Linked DNA regions of Homo sapiens. The protein of the gene in region 1 purifies or fractionates together with the protein of each later gene. This does not show direct contact. Each region holds a gene or a part of one and is shown in the gene's direction. Other genes may lie near its edges. The genes, in order: FBH1, ILKAP and MRRF.

Region 1 (3,006 bases):
ACTTCTGGAGTGGACAGGGAGTCAGGTACAGGATGTTCATTGCTGCATTGTTGGAAATAGTTTGGAAACAACCGAGTAACCACAGCAAGGGAATGGGTAAATGAAATACAAGAGAGCGCTGTGACTGAGTCCTCTACAGCATTTTAGAAAACCTAGGTGAGGAGGAAGCCAGAAGCGTAACATTCATGTAAATTAGACATCTATAAAAGGAGACCTGTGTCCTTGGACACGTGTAAACGAGAAGCTATTTCACCGTGGGTTGGAGGGACCTCGCCAGGTTCATGGTCTTGGCTGTCTCTCGGGAAGGAAATTGAGATGACAGTCCAAGGGACTTCAGCAAAATCTGTGACTTCAGACAGGATTTCACCTCGTCAGCTGTTAGTACTTGTTGGCCATAACTGGAGTGTTTGCCTGGTGGTTTTCTGTTCTTTTTCATAGCTGGTAGGCAGGCCGTCTAAGAGAAAAGACCAAATAAATCAAAACGTAGGTTACAGATTGTAGAATAAGTAGATCAATAGCTGGTCATAATCCAGAAAATACGAAACCGTCCTTTCCTGGGCAGCAGATGTGTGCGGTCCTGCTAGCATATCAGTCTGTGATGTGGAGCCCCACAGGGCAGCAGCGAAGCTGACAGTGCCCTGTCCTTGTGGTGTTTCCAGCCTGGGAGGTCACTAGTGCTTCCTCTGGGTGCTCCCTGCGTGCCAGGCGTGAGTGCTTTGCATGCATTGAAGGGTTTCTTCTCCTCAGCAGCCACCTGAAGCAGGCACCGTGCCATCTGCATTTATGGATAAAGACACAGGCTTAGCGAGGCTGTCATTTGCTCACTAGCACAGCCAGCAGCACGGGACGGTGGAAATACGCAGGGATGTTTGGGGCAAGTTTTCTTCATGTCCTCTGTGTTGCCTGCCTGGCTTATAATGTGAATACACAATAGTTTTCTGAAGATTGAGCTGGGGATACCTTAGCATAAAATAAAATCCAGAAATATTCTGGAAATGTCATTACAGGCAATAGTTTTGCATGTTTATCTGTTAAATATATATATATTTAAAAAGCAATTGGACTGTCAGTTGGACTGTCGATAGCTTTGGAGGCAGGGAAAAGTTAGAGGAAGTAAGGGAGAACGGGTTAGGCGGGGTTTTTCTCTCTGGGACTTACAGTGCATCTAAAGGGTTCTCACAGAGCCGCCGCTATCAGTGTTTCCAGTAGACCCTAACGGAGGTGTCGCCATGACTCTCTTTCTCGCTCTTTCTTTCTCAGGAGTACTTCTTGCAAGCAGAGCTGACAAGCAACGTCTTAAAAACAGGCGTGGTGCGCTGCTGCGTGGGACAGTGCAACAATGCCATCCCTGTTGACACCGTCCTTACCATGAAGAAGCTGCCCATCACCTATGTACGTCTGCTGTCTGTGGAACTTAATTCAGCCATTTGCATTTTTTGCTTGTGAGCTCTGTGCTTATCTGGGTTGTAGGTGAGGAGATAAGAGAGAGCTGTGTGATCCTTTATTAGGGGCTTTTCATATGAGAGGCACAAGAGGTGTGTGGTCTGTCCCAGGGTCAGAGGTCAGGGCACGTGATGCTGCCTGGCTGTGCTGAAGCCGCAGGTCTGGGAGGCTGGGTTGTGATACACGCTTAGAGAGAGAGCTGTTCCCTGGGGTCCCAGCGCAGCTTTTCTTGGTTCTTTATCTTGACTGGATAAATGACTGTTTCTGAGCTCAGGGAATTTGGGGGTGTTGAGGCCACCTAGTTGGTGGTGCTGTGGGAGGTGTTACTCTGAGGATGTGCACCCCTCTGAAAACATCAGAATCCAAATGCGTTGTCCCTGGGCAGCTGTGATGATAACTCCATGCTTTTTGCTGGAAAATCCATGTTCTTTGGTTGTTCCCCTTAGCTCTCTCTCTTGTCCATCACCACAGAGCAACAGGAAGGAAAACAAGGGGGGCTACCTCTGCCACTCCTGTGCGGAGCAGCGCATCGGGCCCCTGGCGTTCCTGACAGCCTCCCCGGAGCAGGTGCGCGCCATGGAGCGCACTGTGGAGAACATCGTACTGCCCCGGCATGAGGCCCTGCTCTTCCTCGTCTTCTGAGGACAAGGCGCACGTTCTCCGCAGTGCAGAGCAGCTTGCCGAGGACCCCGCGTGAAGAAAGCCAGCGAGGGGGGCTTCTGCTCCCTGAGACTCTGGGTTCACCCACAGCACTTTCTGAGGAAGAGGACACCAGCCCAAGCTGGACCTGCCATTTCTCCACTCCCTACAGACAGCCAGTCTCCACTTGCCTCCCCTCTGGATGTATCTGGTCAGGGAAGTGGGGGATGTTCTTTTGATAAAAAAAAAAAAAAAAATTTATGTATTTAAACTTTTATTACAAGATTTCAATTAAACAGGCACCATAGCACTGGCATACCGCTGTGTGATGTCTGCGTCAGCACTGTCGTTCTGAACCTTCTCTTTTTCCAGCTTACTCTTTCCTACAGCACTGTCACTGTTCACAAGACACAGGAAGCAGAGTATGAGACGTGATGTCTTGGGTGGGAACTGAGGCATCAAAAATGAGACTTTGGCCGGGAGCAGTGGCTCACACCTGTAACCCCAGCACTGAATCCAGCCAAGGCAGGAGGACTGCTGGAGCCCAAGGTTGAGGCTGTGAGCCGTGGTCACCTCACAGCTCACTGTACTCCAGCCTGGGTGACAGCGGGACACTGTCTCAAATAACAATAATGTTTTAAGGAGGTCAGATAAATTACAAGGCTAACAGGATCATAATCTCAGCAAGAAATGACCCCAGATGGGCTGGACCACAGCGCCTGTGGGGCCTGGTGAGGAGGGAACGGATGCGAAGATCAGTGGTTCTCAAAGTGTGGTTCCAGCAAGCAGCGGCAACATCACCTGGGAACTTGTTAGAAATAAAAATGTTCAGTCCCCACACCAGGCCTACAGGATCAGAAACTCCAGGGTTGAGGCCCAGCTGTTCGTACATAACAAGCCTGACAAGTGATGCTCATGCATGCT
Region 2 (2,949 bases), on another chromosome or scaffold:
TTGATGAGGGGAGGCCAGAGACACTAGTGGCACTGTGGCGAGTGGGCCTCCGAGTGCTGCTCTGAGTCCCGCCCCAGTGCTGCGGATGAAGAGCGCGTGCCTTGCTTTGGCACTCGCCTGCTTGGCCTTGTCTTGAGCCACTGCCCCATTCTCCACATCTTCTTCAGTGTGTTTGTCATGTTCTCACGTACCGCGGGGTCCTCCATCATCTCTCCAGCAGCCGCCGCCTCTGGTGTTCTGAAGGATGCACCTTCTGCTTTGCTTCCTAGCTCGCCTTCCTGGGTTGTAGTCATGGGTCTGTGTGATTGGTTATTGAGGGTCTGAGTCTCAGGACACTGGAAGGGGTGGGAGCCTGCCAGGACTAGGCCCCACGGTGTTCTCAGCATGGACGATAGGCTCGGCAAGTAGCGGCCGAGTGAAAGCCTAGTTAAACGAGGAAAACAGGCTGGGTGTGGTGGCTCACGCCTGTAATCCCAACACTTTGGGAGGCGGAGGCAGGTGGATCACCTGTGGTCAGGAGTTTGAGGCCAGCCTGGCCAACATGGCAAAACCTCATCTCTACCAAAAATACAAAAATTAGCCAGGCGTGGTGGTGGGCGCCTGTAATCCCAGCTACTCAGGAGGCTGAGGCAGGAGAATCACTTGAACCTGGGAGGCGGAGGTTACAGTGAGCGAGATCATGCCATTGCTCTCCAGCCTGGGCAACAAGAGGGAAAGTCCGCCTCAACAACAACAGCAGCAGCAGCAACAAAAAACAAAGAAAAAAAAACACAAAAAAACCCCACAGATATTACAGTGAGAAAAGGAGGGTGGCTTATACCGCAAAGCTGTGGGGATGCGTATTCCCCACCCCCAATGCCAGGAAAACTAGAACTGTCACATTGAATCCATTGGTGTTCAGAAAGATTCCAGGGACGGTCTAGGGGGGTTTGATTCTGAAAGGGAGAGCATGTGGTTTTCAAACACAGGAACACGCACAGCTGCCCCTTCTTGGGCCTCGGTCTTGGATGCAGCCCCAAGCTGTGCAGTGTGTGCCCAAGGATGTTTCACCGAGGCTGGGCTCATTCTCAGCTTTATGTCTGGAAGTGGTGTAAGGCCTATGGTGTTATAAATTCTTGTATATTTACCATAACACCCATGTTTTTATTCAGTGATTTTTCTGGAGTTTGCCTAAGAAAGTACAGCACCTAATGTTTGAGGTAATTAATAATTCTGTTAATTGGCGAAGAGAAGGATAGTCTCAGTTTTGATGTATAACATCCTATCCACAAATACTTGTAAGTAGTTTAAACCTTTGTCTCAGAAATTAAGTGGGTTTAAACAAATCTTAGCCTGGCCAGGCGCTGTGGCTCATGCCTGTAATCCCAGCACTTTGGGAGGCTGAGGCAGGTGAATCACCTGAGGTTAGGAGTTTGAGACCAGCCTGGCCAACGTGGTGAAACCCTGTCTCTACTAAAAATACAAAAAATTACCCGGGCGTGGTGCCGGGCACCTGTAATCCCAGCTACTCAGGAGGCTGAGGCAGGAGAACAGCTTAAACTGGGAAGGTGGAGGTTGCAGTGAGCCAAGATTGCGTCATTGCACTCCAGCCTGGGCAACAAGAGTGAAACTCCATCTCAAAAAAAAAAAAAAAAGAAAAAAGAAAAAAAAAACCTTAGCCTTTGAATAGTTGGACAAATATTTATTTTATCTCCATCTCCAGGCCCTTTTTTTATTTTTTATTTTTTGGTTGGGCCTAAAACCCGTTTATATTTCTCCCTGGTGTTGTAGGTTCATTTTGTTGGCCTGTGATGGGCTCTTCAAGGTCTTTACCCCAGAAGAAGCCGTGAACTTCATCTTGTCCTGTCTCGAGGTGAGAAATCTCACACGGGGGTGGTGGTTGTCCCAATTGTGTCTTAGTTTTCAGAGAAGTAGAAGTTCTGAGACCCCATTTCCTCCCATTGTGGGACAGCCCTTGTGCCCTTTTTCAGTGTGAACTCTGCCTACTGACTCACTGGTCAGTTTGTCCTGCCAGCCCTGATGGAGACCAGAGCAGCTCTTCTTCCTGGCAGTCATGTCTCAGGAAAGTGACAGGGTGCGGGGTCACTCCATTCACTCATTCCCTTTCTCATCTGGTAGGATGAAAAGATCCAGACCCGGGAAGGGAAGTCCGCAGCCGACGCCCGCTACGAAGCAGCCTGCAACAGGCTGGCCAACAAGGCGGTGCAGCGGGGCTCGGCCGACAACGTCACTGTGATGGTGGTGCGGATAGGGCACTGAGGGGTGGCGCGCGGCCAGGAGCACGCATGGTATTGACTTAAAAGGTTCATTTTGTGTGTGTGCACATTGTGTGTTTTGTGTACTCCTGTGGGACTCCCATGGTTGTAAATAAAGGTTTCTCTTTTTTTTTCCTAGTCTTTTGAGTTATTATACTGTGAGCACCTCTTGACCCTTCAGAGATTGTGTTTGCTTTTGAATATGCTGTCTTTCCTTGTTAAAACCATTATAGGCATCTTGGACTGGCTCGTAGTGGCCTGCAGGCTGCTGGTTGTGTGATGTTTTGTAGTTCACGGGCATTTTGCTGTGCTTTCACTGTCATGATGACCCTGGTTGGGGAAGTGGCATGTTGCAATGAAGAGACCCAGGGGATGACTGGTTAGTCAAGGCTAGGCCCAGACCAGGGCTTTGGGAACCCTCTAGCTCTTTTCAGTTTTCCCTATGGAAATAGTGTTGCAAAATGTTACATAGCATGAGCTCAGGCTTAGCCAGGAAATAGACTCATAGACAAGGTTACTCATGCATCAGACCTGCCAGAAACAGTACAGAATTAGCCATTCTCATTCCATTGGTGAGAGCTGCAGTCTGGTGGAAGGAGTCTGTGGAGGACTCGGTTCAGTGGCTTCCATCTGGACTCCCTGGGTGTAGGTGTGCACCTTCCTGTTGGAGCAGGCAGCCGGCTGCTCAGCATGG
Region 3 (3,655 bases), on another chromosome or scaffold:
AATGTCTGTGAGATGTTAAATTACCAGTGAGATCTCAAAAAGTCATCTTGCCATAGCATAGATCTTTGCTCTGTCATTCCTCTGTTGATTAAAAACTTTCATTATTTGAAGATGCTTCAGGGCTTCCAAAAATGTAACCAACAACAGCAGCAGAGACAGTTTACATTTCCTGAGTGTTTATTCTCTATCAGGCCTTGTACTGGATGCTTCCCATGTATTACCTCATCTAAATCTCACAATAACTCTGAAAGGGAGGTTCTGTTTCATTTGTTTGTTTTTAATTTCTGTTTCCAAATGAGAAGAGCAAGGCTCAGACGGTTTAAATAACTTGCATAGGGTCACTCAGCTTGTAAGTGGCAGGCCCAGAAGTGGGGTCGGATCTGAGTTTTGTAGCCTGGGATAGAGCCCACCGCTCCTCCTCATCAACTGAAGTAGTCTCTTTTTATCTGTTTTGCAAATGGGGCCTCTGCCTCAGTTTTCTTTGGAGCCAGGGGTTTGTGGCTAAAGAAGAATTTGAAAACTCCAGGCCTGTAGAGTATATTTGACTGGGATGTACCCTTTTCAGCTTCATGCTGTCCCTCCACTACATCTCCCACTGTGCTTCCCAAAATGCACTTTGCATTCTTCTGCAGCTAACAAGTTACTGTGCATCCATAAGGCGGTTTCCAAATCTCAAGATAGAAGTGTTGTGTTTTCTGTATGCTCCTTCCGCAGTAGATACTAGCAACAGTCATCCTCTTTCTACGTAGTGGCTGACAAGTTTGTCTCCACCACTAGTCTGAGCCTCTGGAAAAGGTGGGCCAGGTCTGCCTCTTCTGGAGCTCCTTGGTCTGGCCCAAGAACTGGCACAGAGCGTAGGAGGCTCAGTCAGTGCTTGATGGGTGAATGCACATCAACTTAAAGTGGGTACTCAGAACTAACCAGCTGAGTTCAGAAGCCTGGAATACAAACTCTAGTGCATACTCACAGAAACCCAGGAATGCAAGGTGGAGATGATCAGATGTATTAATCACATTTGGAAAAGAATGAAAATATTTCCATAATAAAATATGTTTATTTTCTAAAACAGATATGCCCTCATTGTTTCATGAGGAAGTAATTAAACATGTTTGATTAAAACATTCATAAACACTATCATTTATTCAAGGCTACTATATATGCTGCTCTCTTTATTGGTACTTTATCTGTTGTGTCTGCTTCTCCTAATCCTCCTGTAAGGTGTCTTTTTAAATCTTCATTTTAGAGATAAGGAAACTGAGGCTCACAGAGATTAAGTAACTTGCCCAAGGATAGTCAGCTTCTGAGCAATAGATACAGGTATGAACCTAGTCTGTCTGACTTCAAAACCAGTGCCTTGCCATCACCCTAACTGCTTCTGATCTTGTATTTTAGATACCTTTCAGCTCAGTACCCTGAACCAGCACACACATGCCCTTCTCCCCCTCAGCCCTCCCTGTGTCCAGCATGGTTTGTCTTCCTCCCTCCCTTTCTCCCTTCTCACTGCACTCCACTCTCCATTTCCTTGTAGTATCTTTTTGATTATTGCCTCTTTGCATCCTGAAATGGAAATATTTTTGACAATGTCAGTGATTGGACACGATTACATGTGGAAACTGGTGTTAATAGTGTGGTAATGTCACATTTGCATTAATAAATACAAAGTAATACATTTTATTAAGGCCAAATTACCTATATTATGATTTTGTTTTCTTTCTGTAGCCTTTAATTCTTAAGATTTTTTTGAGTCTCATTTTATATTTTTTAATGTATGTTTTTTCCTCCATTTAAAATATAACATTGTAGTGAAAAGAAAAGTTGATCAGATAATTTTTTTTCTTTGATTAAGCATTTTCTAAACAGTGAGATACCTATTTGAAATTATGTGAAATGCAATATTGAAATACTTCAGTATGTTCTTTTTGGAGAAGTTTATGAGGTTTCTTAAAGACTTAGATTCATTTATTTTCTGCCCCTCTTAGTATTTCAGCAGGATTAAGTTCTTGAATCAGTGGATCAAGTTTTAATTTTCCTGTTCCTTCCTTATACTGACATATGCTTTGGCAGAACAAAAAAGAGACCTAAACATGTCAGCATGATTTTTGTTCAATGAATTAAAAACCATAAAAGTAACAAGATCTGATCCAAATCCCTAAACTCCTGACATGGTGGTTTTGTGCTTTTTAGTCCCAAGCTTCATATTACTGACTTTGAAGAGCTTTCTGCCTGGAAGCAGAAGTAATGGCAGCAGTGCATAATTTACTTGAAATAGATTACAAGAGTAAAAAGAATACAGGCCAGAAAGATCGGGGTTTGAATCCCAGTTCTCTCACTCATGCTCATGGGCAAGTCACTTAACATCTGTGAGCCTGTTTCCTCATTTGAAGAGTTGTGAGGATTCAATGAAGTAACACACTTAAAGTACTCATGTGGCATAGAACGGTTTAATAATAGTAGTAATTAGACTCATTGTTGTTTTGAGAATACCTTCAAATAGCTGAATCCAAAAGGATTTACGTAAATACAACTGTTCACTTCAGAGCTTATTCTTTCTCAAAATTCTTTAATTTTTTTTCTCAGCAGAGAAAATGTAAGGTAGATGTTACTAAATCTTTAACAGCTGCTCATCACTATTCCACACTGAACATGTACCCAGAACTTAGGATTGTCCTTCCTTGAGCAAGAACCGTGTTGATTTGAGAGTAAGGAAGCATAAGCATGTCCATTTCAGGACCCAGGGGGCAGAGGAATGCTGTCATACTAAGACCATTGGCTTTTGTGACAGGCCAGCTTGGGTTTGACTGGGTCTGACTTTGTATAAGGTACCAAATTTCTTTGGGCCTCATTTTCTTCATCTGTAAAACGTGGTTCGTGACCTTGCAAGACTGTCTGTGATATGGCTTCCCAGCCTCTTTTCTTGTCACTCCTTTCTTTGTTATCAGTGCTCCAGCCAATTCCTTAAATGAAGCATGGGCTCTTGATGGTTTTGTCCTTTTCAGTCCCAAGCTTCATATTACTGACTGTGAAGAGCTTTCTGCCTGGAAGCAGAAGTAATGGCAGCAGTGCATGATTTACTTGAAATAGATTAGAAGAGTAGCAGAAAGAATACAGGCCAGAAATATTGGGATTTGAATCCCAGTTCTCTCACTGGGAAGTTTGGTACCTTCTACAAAGTCAAACCCAGTTTGCCCATGTTTGGGCAACTTAAAGCCTTTATACATGCGTTTTCCTCCTCCTGGAAATTCCAGGAGTTCAGCCCACAGAGAGGAAAGTTACAAACTGCTGAACTGGTTGACAGAGTGATGTTAAATTCTTGGCCAGCAGTTAATGTATAGAATGATTTTGTTGAATGTCTTTTGTCTTTTATCAGAGTAACCAGAGAGCACAGAGAAATGCTGGTGAAACTGGCCAAACAGAACACCAACAAGGCCAAAGACTCTTTACGGAAGGTTCGCACCAACTCAATGAACAAGCTGAAGAAATCCAAGGATACAGTCTCAGAGGACACCATTAGGCTAATAGAGAAACAGGTACTATTGCCAGCAATGTAGTAGTGTCTGTGTATTCAGCATAAGGAATCATTTGTTCATGTTTGAGGTGAGGACAGTTAAAACAGAATACCTCTGATCTTTCATTCACATTATCACCATTGTCTGAG

The links.
Region 2: the proteins of FBH1 (region 1) and ILKAP purify together in Homo sapiens (affinity purification with mass spectrometry; one large-scale study listed by BioGRID and IntAct). This does not show direct contact.
Region 3: the proteins of FBH1 (region 1) and MRRF purify together in Homo sapiens (affinity purification with mass spectrometry; one large-scale study listed by BioGRID and IntAct). This does not show direct contact.

Annotation. Positions count from the first base shown.
Region 1 is NC_000010.11:5,935,196-5,938,201, forward strand, and holds the end of FBH1 (F-box DNA helicase 1), read left to right. Parts: intron 1-1,260; coding exon 1,261-1,392; intron 1,393-1,855; exon of another isoform or gene 1,856-1,914; coding exon 1,915-2,085; 3' UTR 2,086-2,398; downstream 2,399-3,006. UniProt on the Homo sapiens protein: 3'-5' DNA helicase and substrate-recognition component of the SCF(FBH1) E3 ubiquitin ligase complex that plays a key role in response to stalled/damaged replication forks.
Region 2 is NC_000002.12:238,169,846-238,172,794, reverse strand, and holds the end of ILKAP (integrin-linked kinase-associated serine/threonine phosphatase 2C), read left to right. Parts: intron 1-1,770; coding exon 1,771-1,852; intron 1,853-2,118; coding exon 2,119-2,259; 3' UTR 2,260-2,393; downstream 2,394-2,949. UniProt on the Homo sapiens protein: Protein phosphatase that may play a role in regulation of cell cycle progression via dephosphorylation of its substrates whose appropriate phosphorylation states might be crucial for cell proliferation.
Region 3 is NC_000009.12:122,309,860-122,313,514, forward strand, and holds part of MRRF (ribosome-recycling factor, mitochondrial isoform 1 precursor), read left to right. Parts: intron 1-3,367; coding exon 3,368-3,527; intron 3,528-3,655. UniProt on the Homo sapiens protein: Responsible for the disassembly of ribosomes from messenger RNA at the termination of mitochondrial protein biosynthesis. Acts in collaboration with GFM2. Promotes mitochondrial ribosome recycling by dissolution of intersubunit contacts.